Homo sapiens: one gene and its partners. The protein of the gene in region 3 interacts with the protein of the main gene of each other region in a biochemical or structural test. Each region holds a gene or a part of one and is shown on either strand. Other genes may lie near its edges.

The links. The genes of interacting proteins can lie anywhere in the genome.
Region 1: the proteins of TMPO (region 3) and AKAP8L form a complex in vitro, tested with the Homo sapiens proteins (one study listed by BioGRID).
Region 2: of the proteins of TMPO (region 3) and RNF123, one has a biochemical effect on the other in vitro, tested with the Homo sapiens proteins (one study listed by BioGRID).

What each region holds. Positions count from the first base shown.
Region 1 is NC_000019.10:15,408,721-15,416,343, reverse strand, and holds part of AKAP8L (A-kinase anchor protein 8-like), read left to right. Parts: intron 1-5,749; coding exon 5,750-5,824; intron 5,825-7,623. UniProt on the Homo sapiens protein: Could play a role in constitutive transport element (CTE)-mediated gene expression by association with DHX9. Increases CTE-dependent nuclear unspliced mRNA export.
Region 2 is NC_000003.12:49,706,202-49,713,824, reverse strand, and holds part of RNF123 (E3 ubiquitin-protein ligase RNF123), read right to left. Parts: intron 7,035-7,623; coding exon 6,927-7,034; intron 1,347-6,926; coding exon 1,169-1,346; exon of another isoform or gene 933-1,168; intron 313-932; coding exon 238-312; intron 88-237; coding exon 1-87. UniProt on the Homo sapiens protein: Catalytic subunit of the KPC complex that acts as E3 ubiquitin-protein ligase. Promotes the ubiquitination and proteasome-mediated degradation of CDKN1B which is the cyclin-dependent kinase inhibitor at the G0-G1 transition of the cell cycle.
Region 3 is NC_000012.12:98,525,400-98,533,022, reverse strand, and holds part of TMPO (thymopoietin), read right to left. Parts: intron 5,138-7,623; coding exon 5,011-5,137; intron 1,344-5,010; coding exon 1,185-1,343; intron 201-1,184; coding exon of another isoform or gene 1-200. UniProt on the Homo sapiens protein: May help direct the assembly of the nuclear lamina and thereby help maintain the structural organization of the nuclear envelope. Possible receptor for attachment of lamin filaments to the inner nuclear membrane.

The sequences.
Region 1 (7,623 bases), on a different chromosome or scaffold from region 3:
TTTCATAAATCTTATTGGTTGCACTGGCTAGCTCTATTAGTTGGGAGGGATCTACATAACGTTAAGAGGCAGGAATGGAGACCATCTTTGAGGATGGTTGTCACCCTACTCTTGGCTCAGATAATAAAGATTGAAGGCAACCTAACCTAATTCCAGTTATCTTTTAATTTTTGGTACTCTGTGTTACTCCTTCAAATAAGACTCTTTTTTTTTTTTAGATCAGGCACGGTGGCTCACACTTGTAATCACAACACTTTGGGAGGCCGAGGCAGGAAGATTGCTTGAGGCCAGGAGTTTGAGATGAGCCTGGGCAACATAGCAAGACCCTTTCTCTATAAAAATTAAAAATAAAAAAGTTAGCTCTGCGAGGTTGAGGCTGCAGTGAGCCATGATTGTGCCACTGTGCTCCAGCCTGGATGACAGCGAGACTCTGGGATTTTTTTTTTGTTTTTTTTTTTGAGACGGAGTCTTGCTCTGTCACCCAGGCTGGAGTGCAGTGGCGCCATCTCGGCCCACTGCAAGCTCCGCCTCCCAGGTTCATGCCATTCTCCTGCCTCCGCCTCCCAAGTAGCTGGGACTACAGGTGCCCGCCACCACACCCGGCTAATTTTTTGTATTTTTAGTAGAGACGGGGTTTCACCTTGTTAGCCAGGATGGTCTTGATCTCCTGACCTTGTGATCCGCCCTCCCTGGCCTCCCAAGGTGCTGGGATTACGGGCATGAGCCACTGCGCCCGGCTGACTGGGAGGTTTGCTGGAGCCCAGGAGTTCAACATTGCTGAGCTATGATCATGCCATTGCACTCCAGCCTGGGCAACAGAGCAAGATCCTGTCTCAAGAAAATATATACTCTTTTTTAAAAAGGAGAAAGGAAAAGTATAAAACTGAGAAGCATTTGTTTTGTTTTGTTGAGACAGGGTCTCACTATGTTGCCCAGGTTGGAGTGCAGTGGCACAAAATCATAGCTCACTGCAGCCTCGCCCTCCTGTGCTCAAGTAATCCTCCCACCTCACCTCAGCCTCCCAAGTAGCTGTGACTACATGTGCATGCCACCATGCCTGGCTAATTTTTTATTTCTGAGATGAGGTCTCACTATGTTGCCACGCAGGTCTTGAACTCCTGGGCTCAAGTGATCCTCCCAACTCAGCCTCCCAAAGTACTGGTATTACAGACATGAGCCACAGCATTTGGCCTGCTTTTGTATTTTTGAGCAAAAAAAGTTGACGAGAGATTGGTTAAAAGCAAGGAGTGTTGCTGCAGAACTAGAAATCCATGGTCTCAAAGTGAGAGGATTGCTTAAGCCCAGGAATTCAACACCAGCATGGGTAACATAGTGAGACCCTGTCTCTCAAAACAAAAAAAGAAAAAGAAAACAAAAATTAGCTGGGCCTGGTGGTGCGTGGCTATAGTCCCAGCTATACAGGAGACTGAAGTAGGAGGATCACTTGAGCCCCGGAGGCTGAGGCCACAGTGAGCAGTGATTGTGCCACTGCACTCCAGCCTGGATGACAGTGAGACCCCCTGTCTCTAATAAAAATAGAAAGAAAGAAATCCGTGGGCTAGGCGTGGTGGCTCACGCCTGTAATCCCAGCACTTTGGGAGGCCGAGGTGGGCGGATCACGAGGTCAGGAGATCGAGACCATCCTCGCTAACACAGCGAAACCCCATCTCTGTGAAAAATACAAAAAATTAGCCAGGCGTGGTGGCAGGTGCCTGTAGTCCCAGCTACTCAGGAGGCTGAGGCAGGAGAATGGCGTGACCCCAGGAGGCGGAGCTTGCAGTGAGCCAAGATCGTGCCACTGCACTCCAGCCTGGGCGACAGAGCGAGACTCCGTCTCAAAAACAAACAAACAAAAAAAAAAAGAAATCTGTGATCTAACATTTAGCTTTATAGGGCCATATAGGGCATATTTTATTTTTTTCAACCAGCGCTAATCAGGCTGATAAATTGTACCAAGAGAACACTTTACAAACCAGCTAAGAATTTAGGCCGGGCGTGGTGGCTCACGCCTGTAATCCCAGCACTTTGGGAGACCGAGGCGGGCAGATCTTCTGAGGTCGGGAGTTTGATACCAGCCTGACCAACATGGAGAAAACCCGTCTCTACTAAAAATACAAAATGCGTAGTGGCGCATGCCTGTAATCCCAGCTACTCGGGAGGCTGAGGCAGGAGAATCGCTTGAGCCTGGGAAGTGGAGGTTGCGGTGAACCGAGATCGCACCATTGCACTCCAGCCTGGGCAACAAGAGTGAAACTCCGTCTCAAAAAAAAAAAAAAAAAAAAAAGAATTATTCATAATAGGAGCCAAAACTGGCTACAGAAGGGCCTGCTCTGCGATCTTTGCAGATGGTATTGTGGAACAGAATGTTAATGTGGTGCAGGGTATAGAGTTAGAGCAGAGATTGCCATTGATCTTGGAGGGTTTGATGGATCGTCTTTCCTTCCTAGGGAAGCACCAGGGCCCCTCTCGCCTGAACAGACACAGATATTTTGCTCAGCAGCTTGCTGACTGTATCTTGTGAGGGTGTGGTAGGCTGTCATTTGCAGTTGCAGTACTCACAGATCACATTACCTAAAGTCTGAGGCCATTTTACTGGTGGCCCAATTGCTGAAAGAACAAGTTTCCAGAGGCCAGTTGAGCAAACAGTGGAGACCGCAGGGGCTGGGTATTCCTTACATTATAAGGCTTTCCCCTGGGTGAACTCTTCAAAGCTGCTCTCAGTGTTTCTTATGGACAGCTATTAATCAACAATGCCTGGATTTTAGGCATCTCAGGAAGGTCCAGATCCCTGGAAGGAATCCATTTGAATGGATTTCTAGCCTCTTTACTTAGGGAAGGTAGAAGACTGGATCTGTATACCCTCGGTTTTATCCTGCCTCAAGTCCCAGTCCCTACTCTGGAAAGTGAAGATGAAGCTGGGTTCACAGCTCCGTCTTTGGAACCCTTGGAGCTAGATGTATTTTGGAATTCTAGCTTAAGAGAAGTCACGTGGGGTCTGGGGAAGCACCTTGTATTTAAATAGATTAATTCTGCACTAAGTAGGACAAAGAAAGATTATAAATGTCCTTACAGGTGAAAACAGCTCCAGCGTGAGTTTTGGCACCACACTGGTAGAAAACACTTGGTGTTCAGACCCTTTTGGACCTGGGGGAATTGCAGAGTAAGGAATCTTGCCCACCTGCCCTTATTGTCTGTGGTGAGGATGAAATGAGATCATTGCAGATAAATGTTCTTAGCACCCTGCAGGGAAAGCACTTGTTTGCTGTTGGCTGCTGCTGCTGTGGTCTTAAGAGATAAAATAGAGACACTGTCAACAAATAAGAGAACGCTTACCCAGGGGGAAGGCACTTCTGTAGGTTTTTGATGTAAACAAGCTGTTAAAGGCATAGGCTTTAATTTTCAGGTCATGAGTTGGCTCTGATGGGAAAGGCAAATACTGCCTCTTATGGTATCTGTCGTAATTTCAGTGCTGAGAGAAAATTATTCAAAAATATGTATTTCTGGCCGGGCGCAGTGGCTCACGCCTGTAATCCCAGCACTTTGGGAGGCCAAGGCGGGCGGATCACAAGGTTAGGAGATCGAGACCATCCTGGCTAACATGGTGAAACCCCATCTCTACTAAAAATACAAAAAAATCAGCCGGACATGGTGGCACGCGCCTGTAGTCCCAGCTACTCAGAAGGCTGAGGCAGGAGAATCGCTTGAACCCGGGAGGTGGAGGTTGCAGTGAGCCGAGATCGTGCCACTGCACTCCAACCTAGTGCGAGACTCCGTCTCAAAAAAATATATATGTATTTCTAACTGTAGAGTTGTTGTTTTTTCTTTTTTTAATGTAGTTTTAAAGCAAGTGTCAGGATTAGCATCAGTCATAGTCTGTAGGAGCACTGGTTTCTGATAGAGGTAGAAGTTTTCCTTACTTGGCACTAACTCATTTTATTTTATTTCATTTATTTATTTATTTTGAGATGGAGTCTTGCTCTATTACCCAGGCTTGAGTGCAGTGGCACGATCTCCACTCACTGCAATCTCCGCCTCCTGGGTTTAAGCAGTTCTTCTGCCTCACCCTCCCAAGAACCTGGGATTACAGGCAGGTGCCACCACACCCAGCTAATTTTGGGGTTTTGTTTGTTTGTTTTGAGACGGAGTCTTGCTCTGTCGCCTAGGCTGGAATGCAGTGGCATGATTTTGGCTCACTGCAACCTCTGCCTCCTGGGTTCAAGCGATTCTCCTGCCTCAGCCTCCTGCGCAGCTGGGACTACAGGCACACACCACCACGCCCAGCTAATTTTTGTATTTTTAGTAGAGACAGGGTTTCACCATATTGGCCAGGCTGATCTCGAACTCCTAACCTCGTGATCCACCTGCCTCGGCCGCCCAAAGTGCTGGGATTACAGGCGTGAGCCACTGTGCCCTGTAATTTTTGTATTTTTAGTAGCTAATTTTTGTATTTTTAGTAGAGATGGGGTTTCACCATGTTGGCCAGGCTGGTCTTGAACTCCTGGCCTCAACCAGTCCACCCCCCCTTGGCCTCCCAAAGTACTGTGAGTACAGGCATGAGCCACTGCATCCAGCCCTAATTCATTTTATGTTGAGAAATAGTTTGAAAGTTGAGAAGATAGGAAATTTTATGTATATATAATAATACTTATTTCCATATGACCATGCCACCCCAAATAATTACTTTTAAGAAATAATTGTTTTTTGTTTTTGTTTTTGTTTTGAGACAGGGTCTTGCTCTGTCACCCAGGCTGGAATGCAGTGGCGCAATCATAGCTCACTGCAGCCTTGACCTTCTGGGCTCAAGTGACACTCCCACCTCAGCCTCCCAAGTAGCTAGGACTACAGGCACATGCTGCCACAGCTGGCTTTTTTTTTTTTTTGTAGAGACAGGGTTTCACCCTGTTGCCCAGGCTGGTCATCTTGGCCTCCCAAAGTGTTGGGATTACAGGCATGAGCCACTGCCCGGCCCAGAAATAATTGTTATAATTGTTATACACACTTTTTAATGGGAAAACCAAAATAAAAAGCAGTTTCTGTTTCAGATTTAGAACAGGGAGGGGGGTATTATTTGCTTTAACATGGTTTTGAAGCTAACCTCCATCCTTGTTTGAATTCCAAGTGGCTCACCCTTCAGGGATTTGAATAGTTTCCTCATTTAACAGAATGATAACTTGGGTGTTCATTTCTCAAAATAGGCTACTGGCTTAAATGTTTAAAAATTTTTATTTGGGGCCAGGCTCTGTGGCTCACACCTGTAATCCCAGCACTTTGGGAGGTTCAGGAGGGTGGATTGCTTAAGCCTAGGAATTAAAGACCAGCCAGGGCAACATGATGAAACCCCATCTCTACAAAAAAGTATAAAAATTAGCTGCGAATGATGGCACGAACGTATAGTCTCAGCTACTTGGGAGGCTGAGGCAGGAGGATTGTTTGAGCCTGGAAGGTCGAGGTTGCAGTGAGCCGTGATCATGCCACTGCGTTGCAGCCCGGACAGAGTGAGACCTTGTTTTTAAAAAGTAAATAAATAATTTTTTAATCTAGTCCTCCTGGTATAGCAAGTTAAACATAGCCTGCCTTTCCATTGGGTAATATTTTCTGACGGTCTAATTAAACTGTGGAATCTAGAGGTTTTGGTGGCTTTTCGTTGAGAGAAGGGCCTGCTGGCAATCCTATACCAAAGGTTAGGTAGTCTCAGGTCATTTCCCTGTGACTTGCTTGTGGAAATTAACCCCACTGTCTTTATGTTTAGGCTTTGTCCAGGGATCTGAAACCACTTTGCAGTCGACATACTCGGATACCAGCGCTCAGCCCACCTGTGATTATGGTAAGTGTGGACTTCTGGTGGGAACCAAAGTGTTCTGCAGAGCAGTTCCTTGTCTTCTTAGTTGCCTTTGGCTTTGCTGTCACCCTGTCATGCTTTTTTAAACCTAAACTTGTGTGAAATGGTGTGGCCATTTGAATAGCTAGTGCTTCCCTTTCAGGCAATTATGGGAAAAGTAGCTGTGTTCCTGAGCAAGTTAGGCTCTTTGATAAAAGGCCTGGCTTCAAATCCCCATGGGGGAGGGACTGGGAGTCACAGTGGCCAATTAAAGTCCAAAGGAGGCCAGGCGCGGTGGCTCCTGCCTGTAATCCCAGCACTTTGGGAGGCCGAGGCGGGTGGATCACTTGAGGTCAGGAGATCGAGACCATCCTGGCCAACATGGTGAAATGCCATCTATACTAAAATACAAAAAATTAGCCGGGCATGGTGGTGTGTGCCTGTGGTCGCAGCTACTCAGGAGGCTGAGGCAGGGGAATCACTTGAACCCGGGAGGCAGAGGTTACAGTGAGCCGATATCATGCCACTGCACTCCAGCCTGGCAACAGAGCAAGACTCTGTCTCAAAAAAAAAAAAGTCCAAAGGATTGGTCCAGGAGAAAGCAAGCTATTAACTTAGTCCCAGCATAGTGCATGTCCTTGCTGTGGGAGAGAGGCTGAGTGTGTGAATCTGGCAGCTTTTGGAGACTCAGCCAGGCCACCTCAAGCCAGCAGGCTCCACACACACAGAGTTGAGTGAAGATCTCTGATTGAGTTTTCCAGCGTGGACAGAAACACCTAATTAGCTAATTCAGAAGTAGCCACCAGTAGGATTCACAGATGCTGTTTTGTTTGTGTGCTGTGGCAGCCCGGACTGCTGTTAAAGCTGGTTTTTGGTTGTCTGTGACTCTAGGGGTATCTGTTGAGAAGGAGCCCTCTTTGGAATTAACAGGGATAATGTCTTAGTTACTGAGATGGGTAATTTCTTTTACTACCAAGATCTGGGGAAAGACTGATCCTACACAGCTAACATGCCTTCAGGGGTCACTGCATAAAGAGACTTAAGTAAGCTCCCCAAGTAACAGCAGCTAGTCCCAGGAAAAGGGAAGACTTAAAATATTTTGAAATTGAGTGAGAAGGTATCAGGTGTCTCATAAATGAGGAGAAACTTGGTTTGCTTGACTTCCCTGTGCTGCCCTCCCTGCCTCTCCCTTTTCATCAAATGTAGTCCCTAATTGCACATCCTTTTGAATTATTTTCCCTCTGGATTGCATATTCTGAGTACAAGCCATTTCTCGGATATGCCATTTACAAATATTTTCTCCCAGACTGTGGCTTGTCTATTCTCTTGTCAGTGTGTCTTGTCTTGTGTCAGAAAGAACACAAGTTGTTAATTTTGAAGCCCAATTCAATCTTTTCTTTAATAGATGATGGTTTTGCTTTTATATCTAAGAAATCTGTAATATTTTCTTTAGAATTTTCTTTTAGGTGTTTTAGTTGTGGGTTTTACATTTAGTCTGTGATCCATATTGAGTTAATTTTTCTACAAGGTGTGCAGTATAGGTTAAGGTTTCTTATTCTTCTATGGCATATAAATATATAATTGTTCCAGCACCATTTGTTTAAAAAACAAAAACAAAAACAAAACCATTTTTTCTTTCTTTTTTTTTTTTTTTGAGACAGAGTCTCACTCTGTCCCCCAGGCTGGAGTGCAGTGGCGCGATCTCAGCTCACTGCAAGCTCCGCCTCCTGGGTTCATGCCATTCTCCCGCTTCAGCCTCCCGAGCAGTTGCCCGCCACCACGCCTGGCTAATCTTTTTGTATTTT
Region 2 (7,623 bases), on a different chromosome or scaffold from region 3:
GCTCCTCGGGGATTCGCTCCACAGCCCGCAGGGAGTGTGGGTAGCACACGTAGCTGGCCAGGGCCTGCATCAGTGAGTCTCGGATGTCTGCGGGGACACACCGTGCCTCAGCAGGGGCTTGGCATGAGCCCTGGACCCATACTTCATGCCCACCTGGCCACATTTTTCATAGAAGAAAGCCGACCAGAGGTGCCATCCCATCCCCCTCCCCCTGTACCCTCTGTAGGGGCCCCTCACCAGTGCCCACAATGCGTGCGTCGGCAAAGTGTTTGGCGAGAATGGCAGCCAGGCGGGTCAGGGTCTCTTCATAGCCTGCAAGGGTGGGAAGTGAGACGTGTCGGCTGGGAGTGGGGGCTCCAGAGGCAGGCATGTCAGCAGGGTGGGTGGACTTGGGTAGCAGGCTCTAGAGCTGGCTCCCAAGGCCAGCCTGGACCCAGGGTGGCATCTGGGGACATCGGGCAAAGCATTCATTGGTGGCTGTGCAAGGGCTAAGGCACAGGCTCACTGTGAAGGGATGACAGGCCCTGGCAGGAGCCCTGACCTGGGCTCAAACCCATCTCAGCACACACACCTGATGAGCAGTCAAAGCTCCTTGGGCACTCACAGCTCTGTCTTTGAAGACAAAGCCTGCACTGAGGCCTGTGGCTGGGCAGGGGGCAGGCTAGGGGCCTGACAGCTCACTGCCTGATCCAGACATACACTGCCACGCCCAGCCTGGAATCAGCAGGCTGAGAGGCCCAGGTTCGGATGTGGACCCTAGCAGGGTCCACCCCCTGCTGTGATTTACCAAGACAAACCATTCTGCCCCTGACCAACTGCTACGCTTTGTGACCAGTGCCAGGGAGTCAAGGTGCAAGGCCAGCTGGCTCCTGGACCATGGCAGTTGCTCATAGCACTAGGAAGGAAGTGAAAGCCAAGAGGTCTACACCCACCGTGTTCCATCTTGTCTGTTTTCCTTTGCTAGGGAGCTGTTGGCTCTGTGGCTGCAGGTCCCAGGGCAGGGTGCAGACGTTTGTTTGCTGCAGGGTGAACCACAGAGGAAGCTCCTCCCCTCCCCGCCCCCCACAGAAGTGTGTTGCTGGGCCACAGAGGTCTCAGACCAGGGCTCCTAGGGCTCACACTAGAGACCCCTTTTCTGCTTCTGCCTCAGCCTGAATGGTTCCATCACCTGGGAGCTCCTCCATGCTGTGCACGGGACCAAAGTAATTCTTGAGAGCACTGTAGCTGTTGATGGCCACGCTCAGGTAGAACTCGGGCATGAAGGCAAAGAGAGACCCTGTGCGATCACCGTGCTCAATGGTCCGCAGGCAGACGCGCAGCAGCCAGTAGATGTCCAGCATCTTCTCCTGCAGGAGGCACACGGGGTGCTGCTGGGTTGCGCACCAGTGGGGTCTTGGGGGCATGTCCTGGCCTGGGGATCAGGAAAGGCCTCCCCAGGCCTACGACAGCACAACTGAGACCTGGATTTCAGGAAGCATGAGCAGTAGCTCAAGCAGGGCAATCAAGTCCTCAGCAGGCAAGAGGGACGCACTCAGCCTGGAGGGCGCATTACTGTGACCCAGGCCAGAACTCTGGTCAGCATATTTGTAAGCAAGTTTTTTTTTTTTTTGAGATGGAGTCACCCAGGCTGGAGTGCAGTGACGCCCTCTTGGCTCACTGGAAACCTCCGCCTCCCAAGTTCAAGGGATTGTCTTGCCTCAGCCTCCCGAGTAGCTGGGACTACAGGTATGTGATACCGCGCTCGGCTAATTTTTGTATTTTTAGTAGAGATGGGGTTTCGCCATGTTGGCCAGGCTGGTCTTGAACTCCTGACCTCAGGTGATCTGCCTGCCTCAGCCTGTAAGCAAGTTTTAGGCAAGAGGGTGCTGTGACTGGAAGTCTGTGTGGAAAAGTGGAGTACAAGGTGTGTGAAGGGCCCAAGAGAGCTGGCGATGGTAAGCAGACAGGCAGAAATTTGATCTGGAGTGCAAAGGAGAAGGTGGTGGGAAAGCAGGGGGCAGTGTGACTGGTGGAACAGAGGTCACAGGAAACAGACAAAACCTGCTGAGGGCCCTGCTCCCCACAATGTGGTTTCCACAAAGTCTATGTCAGGGTCTCACAAAGGAGCCCAGGCAAGAATGAGGCCTCAGGCCCCAGCCCAGACCCACAGCACCCGTGTGTCTTGGAGTGCGGTCACAGCACCTGGGCTTCACACCAGCTCTCTGATGTGCCCTAAAGCCCAAGGAACTGAGGAGAAGATGTAAGCAAGAGGTTAGGGGAGGGCCTAGGCGCAAACCTAGGCAGCGATGATCCTGCTGCTACAGAAGGCCAGCGAAGACTGTGTCTGGTGAGGGGCTGGCAATGGCCCCATCAGAGCTAAGGTATCAATGCAAAGGAGATGGAAATGTGCCGGCCGGATTGAGATGGGGGCAGACAGAGACCCTGGTGAGACTATTTCAGAGATGGGGAAGAGCCTGTGCTGGAGGGAGATGAAGGGGAAGATGTAGCAGCTAAGACAGAGAAAGAAGGAGAGAGCATAACTTTTGGGCACATATAGCGTCAAGGCTGGAATGCAGTGGCACAATCACAGCTCACTGTAACCTGGAACTCCTGGGCTCATGTGATCCTCCTACAGGTATGTGATACCACGCCCTGCTAATTTTTGTATTTTTAGGAGAGATGGGGTTTCGCCATGTTGGCCAGGCTGGTCTTGAACTCCTGACCTCAGAGTAGCTGGGACTACAGGTATGTGTCACCATGCCCCGCTAATTAAATTTTGTTTTTTTTGTAGAGATGGGTTGCCCAGGCTGGTCATGAACTCTTGGCTTCAAGTGATCCTCCCGCTTCAGCCTCCCAAAGTGCTGGTTTACAGGAGTGAATCTCTCCATTAATAATGGGATTAGAAAGACACAGGTGAGTTAGTGCTGAAGATGCAGAGAATGAAGGCAGTTCAACATAATAAAGACCATATATGAAAAGCCTCCATCTAACATCACACTCAGTGGTAACAGACTATAATCCCTCCCTCCCTCAGACCAAGAACAAGACAAGTGTGCCACTTTCTCTACTTCTGCTCAGCACAGTCCTGGAAATCCCAGCCAGAGCAACTAAGCATGAAAAAGAAAGGAAACCACACTGGAAAGGATAAAGTAAAATTATCTCTGTTCACAGACATGATTTTATAAGTAGAAAATCCTAAAGATACACACACACACACAAAACCCCAACTAGGATTAATAAATAAATTCAGCAAAATTATAGGATATGGCCAGGCGCGGTTGCTGAAGCCTGTAATCCCAGCACTTTGGGAGGCCGAGGCAGGCGGATCACCTAAGGTCAGGAGTTTGAGACCAGCCTGACCAACAAGGTGAAACCCCATCTCTACTAAAAATACAAAAATTAGCCGGGCGTGGTGGCGTATGCCTATAGTCCCAGCTACTCAGGAGGCCGAGGTGGAAGAATCGCTTGAACCTGGGAGGCAGAGGTTGCAGTGAGCCAAAATCTTGCCACTGCACTCCAGCCTGTGCCACAGAGCGAGACTCCCTCTCAAAACAAAACAAACAAACCAACAAACAAAAGATATGCAAATGGCCAATAAGTGCTTGTAAAGGTACTATTTGTCATAATGTCACTAATCATTAGCAAAATGCAGAACCACAATAAGGTACCATATCCTACCCATTAGGATTTACTATTAAAAAAGTAGAAATTGCCGGGTGTGGTGGCTCATGCCTATAATCCCCGCACTTTGGGAGGCCGAGGCAGGAGGATTCCTTGAACCCAGGAGTTTGACAACTGGGCAACATAGTGAGACCCTGCGTCTACCAAGAAAAAAAAAGGGCAGAAAATAAGAAGTGTCGGTAAGGATATGTATGGAGAAATTGGAACCCTCATGCACTACTGGTGAGAATGTAACAGGCACAGCCACTGTAGAAATGATATGGTAGTTTCCAAAAAATTAAACAACAGAATTGGCCGGGCGCGGTGGCTCATGCCTGCAATCCCAGCACTTTGGGAAGCCGAGGCAGGCGGATCACCTGAGGTCAGCAGTTCAAGACCAGCCTGACCAACACGGTGAAACCCCATCTGTACAAAAAATACAAAAATTGCAGGGCGCGATGGCTCACGCCTGTAACCCCAGCACTTTGGGAGGCCGAGGCGGGCGAATCACCTGAGGTCGGGAGTTCAAGACCAGCCTGATCAATATGAAGAAACCCCATCTCTACTAAAAAAAAATACAAAATTAGGCCAGGCGCGGTGGCTCACGCCTGTAATCCCAGCACTTTGGGAGGCCGAGGCGGGTGGATCACGAGGTCAGGAGATCGAGACCATCCTGGCTAACACGGTGAAACCCTGTCTCTACTAAAAATACAAAAAATTAGCCGGGCGTGGTGGCAGGCGCCTGTAGTCCCAGCTACTCGGGAGGCTGAGGCAGGAGAATGGTGTGAACCCGGGAGGCGGAGCTTGCAGTGAGCTGAGATAGCGCCATTGCACTCCGGCCTGGGTGAAAGAGTGAGACTCTGTCTCAAAAAAAAAAAAATACAAAATTAGCTGGGCGTGGTGGCACATGCCTGTAATCCCAGCTACTCAGGAGGCTGAGGCAGGAGAATTGCTTGAACCTGGGAGGCAGAGGCTGCCGTGAGCCGAGATCGCGCCATTGCACTCCAGCCTGGGCAAGAAGAGCAAAACTCCACCTCAAAAAAAGAAAAAAAAAATCACAAAAATTAGCCGAGCATGGTGGTGCGCACCTGTAGTCCCAGCTACTCGGGAGGCTGAGGCAGGAGAACACTTGAACCCAGGATGTGAGCCGAGATCGCACCATTGCACTCCAGCCTGGGTGACAGAGTGAGACTCCATCTCAAAAAAAATAAAAAATTAAAATTAAAAATAAAATAAAAAACAGAATTACCATATGATACAGTAATTCCACTTCTGGGTATATAACCAAAAGAATTGAAATTAGGGTCTCAAAGAGATCTTTGCAAACCCATGTTCATTACAGCATTATTCACAGTAGCCCAAAGTAGAAGCAACCCGAGTGTCCATCAGCAAAGGACTGGATATATGAAATGTGGTGTCCGTACAACAGAATATTATTCAGCCTGGAAAATGAAGAAATTCTGACACATGCTATAACACGAATGAACCTTGAGGACATTATGCTAAAGCCATACACAAAAGAACAAATAGTGTATGATTCTTCCTAGATGAGGTGCTTAGTATAGTCAAATTCAGAGACAGAAAGTAGGATGGTGGTTGCCAGGGGCAACCTGAGCTAGCCTCAGAACAGGGCCATGGTGGTCCCCTCATGACATGGAAGTAAGGCCCAGCTGGGGGTCTGTGAGCCGCTGGCCAGAGCACTCAGGGACCTGATGCCAGAACCACTGCTCCCCCAGCTGCCAGACCCAGGGATCTGCTGACAGGTGGGGATGGGTGGGAGCTGTCAGGGAAGCTGGGGAAGGGAGGACAGGAGGTTTTGTTCAACAGGCACGGAGTATCAGTTTTGCAAGATGAAATGAGTGTGGAGATTGGCTGCACGACAATGTGAATAGACTTAACACTTAAAAATGGCTATGATGGGTGACCGGGCACAGTGGCGCACGCCTGTAACCCCAGCACTTTGGGAGGCCGAGGTGGCAGGATCACATGAGGCCAGGAGTTTGAGACCAGCCACGCCAACAAAGTGAAACCCTGTCTCTACCAAAAAATACAAAAAGTAGCTGGGCGCGGTAGCACATCTATAATCCAGGAGAACTGCTTGAACCCGGGAGACAGAGGTTGCAGTGAGCCAAGATCATGCCATTGCAGTCCAGCCTGGGCAACAGAGTGAGACTCTGTCTCAAAAAAAACACAAAACAAAACAAAACAAAAAAAACACAGCTAGGATGGTACATTTTATGTCACACATATTTTAGCATAACTAAAAAAAGGCAGAGAGATGAGAGGGCAAGGGTCTTGAGAAGACAGTGTGGGAGAGGGCAGCCAAACTTCTGAGGGAGGTGGGCAGGCAGGAAATCTCAGGGCAGAAGGGAGAGGAAGTTCCCGTCATGGGGCAGTAAGCACGGTCATCCAGGGTAGCAGGAGAGTCACGAATGGGAAAAAGGTGGAGGTGGTTTGGGTTTTGCAAAAGAGCCATGAGAAGAAACAGCAAGCAGAGATGATAGAAATGGGGATACCAAAGGCCTCGATCACCCAGTCATGCAGGGGTATGCCCAAGAAGACAGCAGATACCCTGACCTGGGCACCTGAAGAGACCCTCAGGGCACTCACTGGTTAGGGAAGAGATGCCAAGAGGGGCAGGGAGAGGAAACAAGTCCAGAGAGTCTGAGGCCTGGGGGTGAAACTTCAGTCACAGCAGGAGTGCCCCATCCATCTGTCTGTCCATCCATGTATCTGACCAGGCTGAGTGCCTTCAGAAGGCAGAGGCTCATCTTTCTGACTTATTAATGTGTGTGTGTCCCTAGTTCCAGGACAGCACCTGGCACACACCAGGTTTTGAGTGCATGTTATTGAATGAATGAGCAAGTGAATGAGTGAGTGGGGAACAAGCCAGTGGCCTCGGGTGGTAATGAGTCAGACAGAGGCAGGCACAGATGGTGGAGTGTGCCTCCGGGAAAGACTGCAGAGCCCCTGATGCACTGGGAGAGAAGGACGGGGGCCAAGAAACTGGGAGGGGGTGGGAGCAGGGGAGGCAGACAGACAGAGTTTGTTCCTCGAAGGACAGGTCTATGAGGCGAACTGGAGGTCCAGAAACTGCGCTTCCTCAGTCCACAGAGCATGAGGGGTACAGGGGACATGGCATGGGGTGATGGAGTCTGAAGTGTGGGAAGGGACATGTGTGTGCCAGAGGCCTGAGAGGGTGGGGGCATCAAGGGCCCTGGCACAATCTTGCTAGACCCGTGGCCAGACAGTGAGGTCGGGAAGGGGCAGCTGCAATACCAGCACACCTGGGAGTAGACAGTGGCATGGACCCAGGCAAGACGGCGGCTCAGGTGGTCCAGCTTTTCTGAGAAAACCTTCTGGCTCTTGGTCAACTCTGCAAGGATGTCCTTCCTCTGCCACCCAAGGGGAAAGGAGGACAATCAAGACATGGCCCCATACCCAGGTCCACCCTGATCCTGCAGGCAGCCTAGGAAGGGCCCTCTAGTGCCTGGAGCAGGCAAGGGATTGGGCTCCATTTTTCAAAACCTTCTTCTGCCACTGACCCTCTGGTGACCCTGAGCCAGCCTCAGAACAAGGCCATGGTGGTCCCCTCATGACATGGAAGTGAGGCCCAGCTGGGGGTCTGTGAGCCGCTGGCCAGAGCACCCAGGGACCTGATGCCAGAACCGCTGCTCCCCCAGCTGCCAGACCCAGGGATCTGCTGACAGGTCGGGGTGGGTGGGGGCTGTCAGGGAAGCTCAGCCTGGACACACTGGGCCCCACCTTCCTGGGCTAGGGCAGCTACAGCAGAGGGCTCCGGAGGGTGCAGTGGAGCCAGGCCCTGCTTCCTGCTGACTCTGCAAGTGGCCGAGGAAGCACTCAGGGTCAATGAATAATTGATGAGGAGAGTGGGTGTGCTTCAGCACTTATTGGGCCCAGGGGGTGGGGGGCACCTAGGCACAGGCCACACTGGTGATGGGTGCCAGGCCTTGCTGCCAGCCC
Region 3 (7,623 bases):
AGGCTCCCTAGGTAGGTCTCCCTTAGAAGTATGTACTTTCTTAGCTGCCTGTAGTTCGGTACTGCCCAAAGGAGGACGGGTGGAGATTTCAGGAAAAGAAATACCCTGAAAAAATCCACCACCAGAGGGAGTAGTTCCAAGTTCAGAAAAAGGAACAATATCCCTAGTGGACTTCACTTTCTTGTGTTCTTTCTTCTTTCCTGTAGAGGCAAAAGAGGCAGGAAGTTTAAGCATTACCTGTGTTTGAGCTGATTTTATTCTTTGCCTCTTTGCTAAAAATAGTGCTGTCAAAGGAAAAGACTATAATTTCATATTCTGAACTAATCTGCCAGATTTGCCCTGGTAGACAAAGCTTATTGAGATATAAACAATCTGGATCAAAATAAATAATCACAAGTCATATTAATTAAAAGTTTACAAAAATCAAGTTGTATTTATAATTTTTAAAGGACATTTATTTCACATACTATCCTTAAAAAATATTTAAACATCATGATCAAATTTTAAGATACTATACAGTCTACTAAAAATATAGTCAAAATATTTGCTTTAAAGTTGCCCTGAGGTCAGATTAACAAAAACTGCGAACAATTTAAATGCCTATCAATAGAGAACAGAGAAAATATGCCATATTTAAATGCTACCACTATGTATTAATTATGAAGAATAAACAGATATGTAATTAACAGGATTAGATTTCAAAAATAATGGAGTAAGAAAAAGCAAGTGATAAGATTTAGCATACTGTTTATATAAATTTTTTATTCTTAAAGTATAAAATAATACCATGTATTAGACAGATGTGTATGTGAAATATAAAACTTGAAAGACAGGCATTGAATTAATAATAGTAGTTACTTCTGTGGAGGTGATAGGTACAGGTAAGTACGAGAAACTTTGCCTTTACTTGTAATACTTTATTCTCTCAGAAAAATGAGATTTGTAGCAAAAAAGACAAAGTTAACTTGCAATTTCAGGTGATGGAAAATTATGAATTTGTACTATGTTGCTTCTTAGAATTTTCAATAAAAAGTATTTAAATCAAATTACAGAATTACTCTAATGACACGAATAAAATTTGTGTATCTTGCCAATATTGTTTTAAATTTTACTTTCTTCATGGTCACTGAATTTTGAGTGTGAAAAAATTCCATACATTTGATTAACATCATTTAAAATTTTACCTTCTTCATTGTCACTGTATCTGTCAGAATCATTACTTCCATTCTGCCTTGTATTTTCTGCTGAAGAAGAAATTGTTGGCAGAGGAGTAGAAGATCTTGATTCTGTTCCTTGTTCCCTCAGTTTCAAAAGCTTTTTCTCATATAGCTTCCTGGTTGTTCCTGGATTAAGGCAGAACTTGCTTTAGTACCTGTATTGTTTCATTTAGGATGCAGCTCAGACACTATCTTCAGCAACATTTTAAGCTATTTTCACCCTTTATTTTTCTAAACTCAAGTTCTTAAAAAAAAAAATACCATATAATGCGGCCAGACATAGTGGCTCACGACTGTAAACCCACCACTTTGGGAGGCTGAGGCGGGTACATTACTTGAGGTCAGGAGTTCGAGACCAGCCTGGCCAACACAGGGAAACTATCTCTACTAAAAATACAAAAATTAGCCGGGCATGGTGGCACACGCCTGTGATCCCAGCTACTTGGGAGGCTGAGACAGGAGAATCACTTGAAATTGGAAGGCAGAGGTTGCAGTGAGCTGAGATCGCACCACTGTCCAGCTGGGAGAGGAAGTAAGATGCTGTCTTAAAAAAAAAAAAAAAAAAAAAAAGGACGTGGTGGCTGATGCCTGTAATCCCAGCACCTCCAGAGGCCAAGGCGGGTGGATCACCTAAGGTCAGCAGTTCAAGACAAGCCTGACCAACATGGTGAAACCCAGTCTCTACCACAAATACAAAAAATTAGCTGGGCCTGGTGGTGGGCGCCTGTAATCCCAGCCACTCAGGAAGCTGAGGCAGGAGAACTGAACCCAGGAGATGGAGGTTGCGGTGAGCTGATATCGCACCATTGCATTCCACACAACTATATAATGCACTCTTTTTACAACAGGTGGTTTTTTGGGAAATGACATTTCTTTTAATAGCATGAAATACATAGTAGGTTAATACAGGCCTTTCTATAGACCATCTACTGAAAAGCCATGTATGACTATTTTTGACTGAAGTCTTGCATTTATTTTCTCTACTACTACGTAATAGTACTTGCCAAGGTAGAAAAATCACATGTAAGCGGATTGTACCTCTATGAAAAATAACTATGATTAAATTTCCACAACTCTAAGACATTAATATGCCTGTATTCAGTTATGGGGAAAAGAAAAGTTCTATAAATCAGATTTAAATATAACAACTTTGCAGTTAAAATGACCTTTTATGGAAAACACATATCACAAAGCAAAATTGATTACAAATTCTTAATACATTTGAACATCAGTGACAGTTTAAAACCAAAATAGATTTTGTTTTACATTAACTGTATTATCTTTCCTTAACTCCTGGTAAGATGAGCAAAATGATAATGGATATTTTTTAGAAGCAACATGTGTCCAGAAATGTTATATAAATAGCCTTAAGATGAACAGGTCATACATCAACATATAATTTAATGTAGGCTGATATTATAACACACATTTTTCAGTGTCTCCCTTTTGGAATTTCTTTTTTTTTTTTTGAGACAAGGTCTTGCTCTGTTGCCCAGGCTGCACTGCAGTGGTGCGATCATAGCTCACTGCAACCCTGAACTTGTGGGCTTAAGCAATCCTCCCACCTTTGCCTCCTGAGTAGCTAGGACTACAAGTGTGCACTACATGCCTGGCTACTTTTTTTTTTTTAAATAGAGACAAGGTTTCACTATGTTGTCCAGGCTGCTCTTCAACTCCTGAACTCAAGCAATTCCACCACCTTGGCCTCCCAAAGTGTTGGGATTACAGGCATGAACTACCATGCCCAGGCCTTTTAGAACTTTAAACAAAAACATTTTTTAAAAGTGTTATATATCTGTTGGTACTTGTATATGAATAAGCTTATGATTATTTGGAAGCAGCTTATACATTAAAACAAAATATTCTAAATCTTTATTTGCAACTATACCTATAGCAAAACCTACCAAATCTCTAGCGTCCACAATTTTAGGTAACTTAGAAGATCAAGACCAGATGCAGTGACTCATGCCTGTAATCCTAGGACTTAGGGAGGCCTAAGTGGGAGGACTGCTTGAGCCCAGGAGTTCAAGACCACCCTGGGCAATATAGTGTGCCCCCATCCCTACAAAAACTACAAAAATTAGCCGGGAATGGTGGCACGTGCCTGTGTTCCCAGCTACTTGAGAGGCTGAGGTGGGACTGCTTGAGCCTAAGCTGAGGCTGCAGTAAGCCATGACTGTGCCACTGCACTCCAGCGTGGACAACAGAGCAAAGACCTTGTCAAAAAAAAAAATAATAATAAAATGGAATTTTCTCATCTTGAGGTTATTGCTAAGACCCTCCAAAACTAAGGCATAATCAACACTGCAAAATCTTCATCACCTAAAAGTAATCCAACGATGGAAATCCAGTGTATTTAGTCCTAGGTTTTTGTTTTTTAAGGGTATAATTCCTCAATTCCAATCAAGATAGGACTTTCAAAAGGGTACTTTTAATGATAAATGAAAAAGGGGCTCAGCGCGGTGGCTCACACCTGTAATCCCAGCACTTTGGGAGCCTGAGGTGGGTGGGATCACCTGAGGTCGGGAGTTTCAGACCAGCCTGGCCAACATGGCAAAACCCCATCTCTACTAAAAATATAAAAATTAGCCGGGCATGGTGGCAGGTGCCTGTAATCCCAGCTATTCGGGAAGCTGAGGCTGGAGAACTGCTTGAACCTGGGAGGCAGAGGTTGCAGTGAGCCAAGATCACACCATTGTACTCTAGCCTGGGCAACAAGAGCGAAACCCCGTCTCAAAAAAAAAAAAAAAATAGGGTACTAGGCTAGGAATTTAATAACTTCATTAAGAAGAAGTCTGTCACTAACTCACTTTTTCTTTTTCCCTTATTTATTTATTTTTTTTGAGACAGGGTCTTGCTCCACTGCCCCTGGCTGAAGTACAGTAGCCATCACGGCTCACTGCAACTTTGACTTCCCCCCACCATCTCAAGCAATCCTCCTGCCTCAGCCTCCTAAGTAGCTGGGACAATAGATTTGTGACACCACACCCTGCTAATTTTAAAATTTTCTGCAGAGATGGGATCTCCCTATGTTGCTCATGCTGTTCTTCAACTCCTGGGCACAAGCAATCCTCCCATCTTGGCCTCCCAAAGTGTTGGGATTACAGGTGTGAGCTACTGCGCCCGGCCATTAACTCATTTATTTGGGCAAATTTGCCCAGCTATGTTACCTCAGATTTTCCTCAATTGTCATACAAGACCCACGTCTCAGCAGAAGTACGATATAAGTGGCCAGGCACGGTGGCTCACACCTGTAATCCCAGCACTTTGGGAGGCCGAGGCAGGCGGATCACAAGGTCAGAAGATCGAGACCATCCTTGCTAACACGGTGAAATCCCATCTCTACTGAAAAATACAAAAAATTAGCCAGGCGTGGCAGCGGGCGCCTGTAGTCCCAGCTACTCAGGAGGCTGAGGCAGGAGAATGGCATGAACCCGGGAGGCAGAGCTTGCAGGGAGCCGAGATCGCGTCACTGCACTACAGCCTGGGCGACAGAGCAAGACTCCGTCTCAAAAAAACAAAAAACAAAACAAAACCAAAAAAAAAAAAAAAAAGTACGATATAAGCACCATATAAAACAATCTCAACAATAGAGGTAATTTTGGAGATTATCTAATTCAATCCTCTCATTTTATTTCACTCATTTACAGTCAAAGAAACACAGGTTCTGCTGATAACAAATGATTAATGACAAACCAGTCCTTGGAACCTAAACTGCTAAACAAAAAGGAGAAAATAATTTGGGGTCCTGCTTCAGAGAAAAGATACTGTATTTGAAATTTTATCAACTTACCCACAATAGGACCAGGATTCACTCCGTATTTCACAAGCTGATCCAAAAGATCTTCATTAGTGAGCTCTGTTACATCTAGATCATCTTTATCTTCTTGTCTGGGTTTATCAGTTTTTTTTGTGGCTTTCTGTAAACAAAGTCCAGTAATCATTTCCATATGAATTAAAGTGTTCACTTACTAGATAATAACCTGTATAACATAAACATGCAAACTCACTACCAAATTGGTTTATAGTAATATTAGGCCTTAGCAATTCCATTAAATTAAGAGCAACTCATTATTGGAGAACACTTTCTAAGTTGAACTGTAATCATACAAACCGCACAGCCAAGCAAGTAACTTAAAGACATTGTTGTTAAAATAGTCCATTTTGGATTACCTATCTAAAAGAGATAGTAATGGCATCAAAAATGCAAAAGAGCAACTAAAAGTAAAACTGACTTTGGGTAACATTTTCTTTTAAATAACCTTTTTTTTTTTTTTTTTAATGATACAGGGTCTAGCTATGTCACCCGGGCTGGAGTACAGTGGCTCCATCTCAGTTCACTGCAACCCCCACCTCCCAGGCTGAAGCGATCCTCCCACCTCAGTCTCCCAAATAGCTGGGACTACAGGTGCGCACCACCACCCTTGGCTTTTTGCCTGTGGTTTTTTTTTTTTGTTTTTTTTTTTTTTTGTAGAGATGGGGTTTTTGCCATGTTGCCCAGGCTGGTCTCAAACTCCTGGACTCAAGTGATCAGCCCACCTTGGCCTCCCAAAGTGTTAGGATTACAGTTGTAAACCACTGCACACAGCCTAAATAACCAAAAATTATATTTCATTTCTTAAAGCATATAACTCCAATGGCAACGGAAACAGATCAGCATGAACCATGGAAAGTAAAGCCAGACTGGGCTTAACATTTTTCATCTAAATGATCATGAATGCTACTTACTAACTTTTTGATAATCCTTAAAAATTTAAATTAATCCAGGAAAGTTTAAGACTTTACCATACAGGCTTACACTTAGATACATATATAGAAATGATTTTCTTTTCTTTTTCTTTTTTTTTTGGAGGTGGAGTCTCGCTCTGTTGCCAGGCTGGAGCGCAGCGGTGCAATCTTGGCTCACTGCAACCTCCGACTCCCGGGTTCAAGCGATTCTCCTGCCTCAGCCTCCCGAGTAGCTGAGAGTACAGGTGTGCGCCACCACGCCCAGCTAATTTTTGTACTTTTAGTAGAGACGGGGTTTCAACATGTTGGCCAGAATGGTCTCGATCTCTTGACCTCGTTATCTGCCCACCTCAGCCTCCCAAAGTGCTGGGATTACAGGCATGAGCCACTGCGCCCGGCCAGAAATGATTTTCTTTAAACAGCATATGAGAACTTAAGAAGGCCAAATGAATACAGTTGGCTCTCCATTCTCCCAAATGAATACAGTTGGGTTCTACATATGTGAATTCAACCAACCACAGATCAAAAATACTTGGGGAAAAAAAAGACAATACGACAATAAAAACACTAACAAAAATACAGTATAACAACTATTTACATAGCACTTACATTGTATTAGGCGTTATAAGTAATCTAGAGATGATCTGAAGTATAAGGGAGGATGTGTGTAGGTTACTACACCACTTTATATTAAGGGACTTACTAAAGCATCCCCAGAGTTTGATATCCATGGCCGGGTCCTGGAACCAATCTCCACCCCAAGGATAGGAGACAGGACTGTAAACTCCTTGTAACACAGTTATTTTAGTAGCTAGTTTATGACTTAGGAAGGAAATCTGACAGACTTCATGGTTAAATTATCACCTGTGACACAGTTTAGTCACCAGATTAACTTCTGTACCACCAGTTTACTAAAAATAGTCAAAATAACTTGAAACAAACTTTGAGGGAAAATTTGAAAGTTTTAAAATTAATTTCTACAAAGGCAGTATTTACTGGAAAAACTATAAATTTCCAAGGTTGAACAAATAAAAAGGAAGCAAAAGTACGGATACCTTTTAAGGCTGTGGCAAACAGCCTGACAAATGCCTCAGTGATCACAGAAAAAACATCAGAGTACTGAACAAAAAAATGGCTAATTAAACAATGGCAACATCAAAGTAAATTTTACGAAAAAGGCTAAAATTATCAAGTTGTATGGAATGCTCACTTTCCAATAATATTAGGGGGAAAAATCAGTCATGATTTGACTATGTACTGGAATTACTGTTTTTAACAATAAAAATGTTCTGACCTAGAATTGTCAGGCTCAAATCAAATCTTTTTTTTTTTTTTTTTTGAGACTGTGCCTCACTCTTATCCAGGCTGGAGTGCAGTGGCGCAATCTTGGCTCACTGCAACCTCTGCATCCAAGGTCCAAGTGATTCTCCTGCCTCAGCCTCCTGAGTAGCTGGGATTACAGGTGTGCACCACCACGCCCGGCTAATTTTTGTATTTTTAGTAGAGACGGGGTTTCAGCATGTTGGCCAGGCTGGTCTTGAACTCCTGACCCCAAATGTTATGCCCGCCTGAGCCTCCCAAAGTCCTAGGATTACGGGCGTGAGCCATGGAACCTGGCCTGAAATACTTCAAATAAAGCAAGATATGAGAAATTCTTTTTAAAAAGCTGCTAATGGCT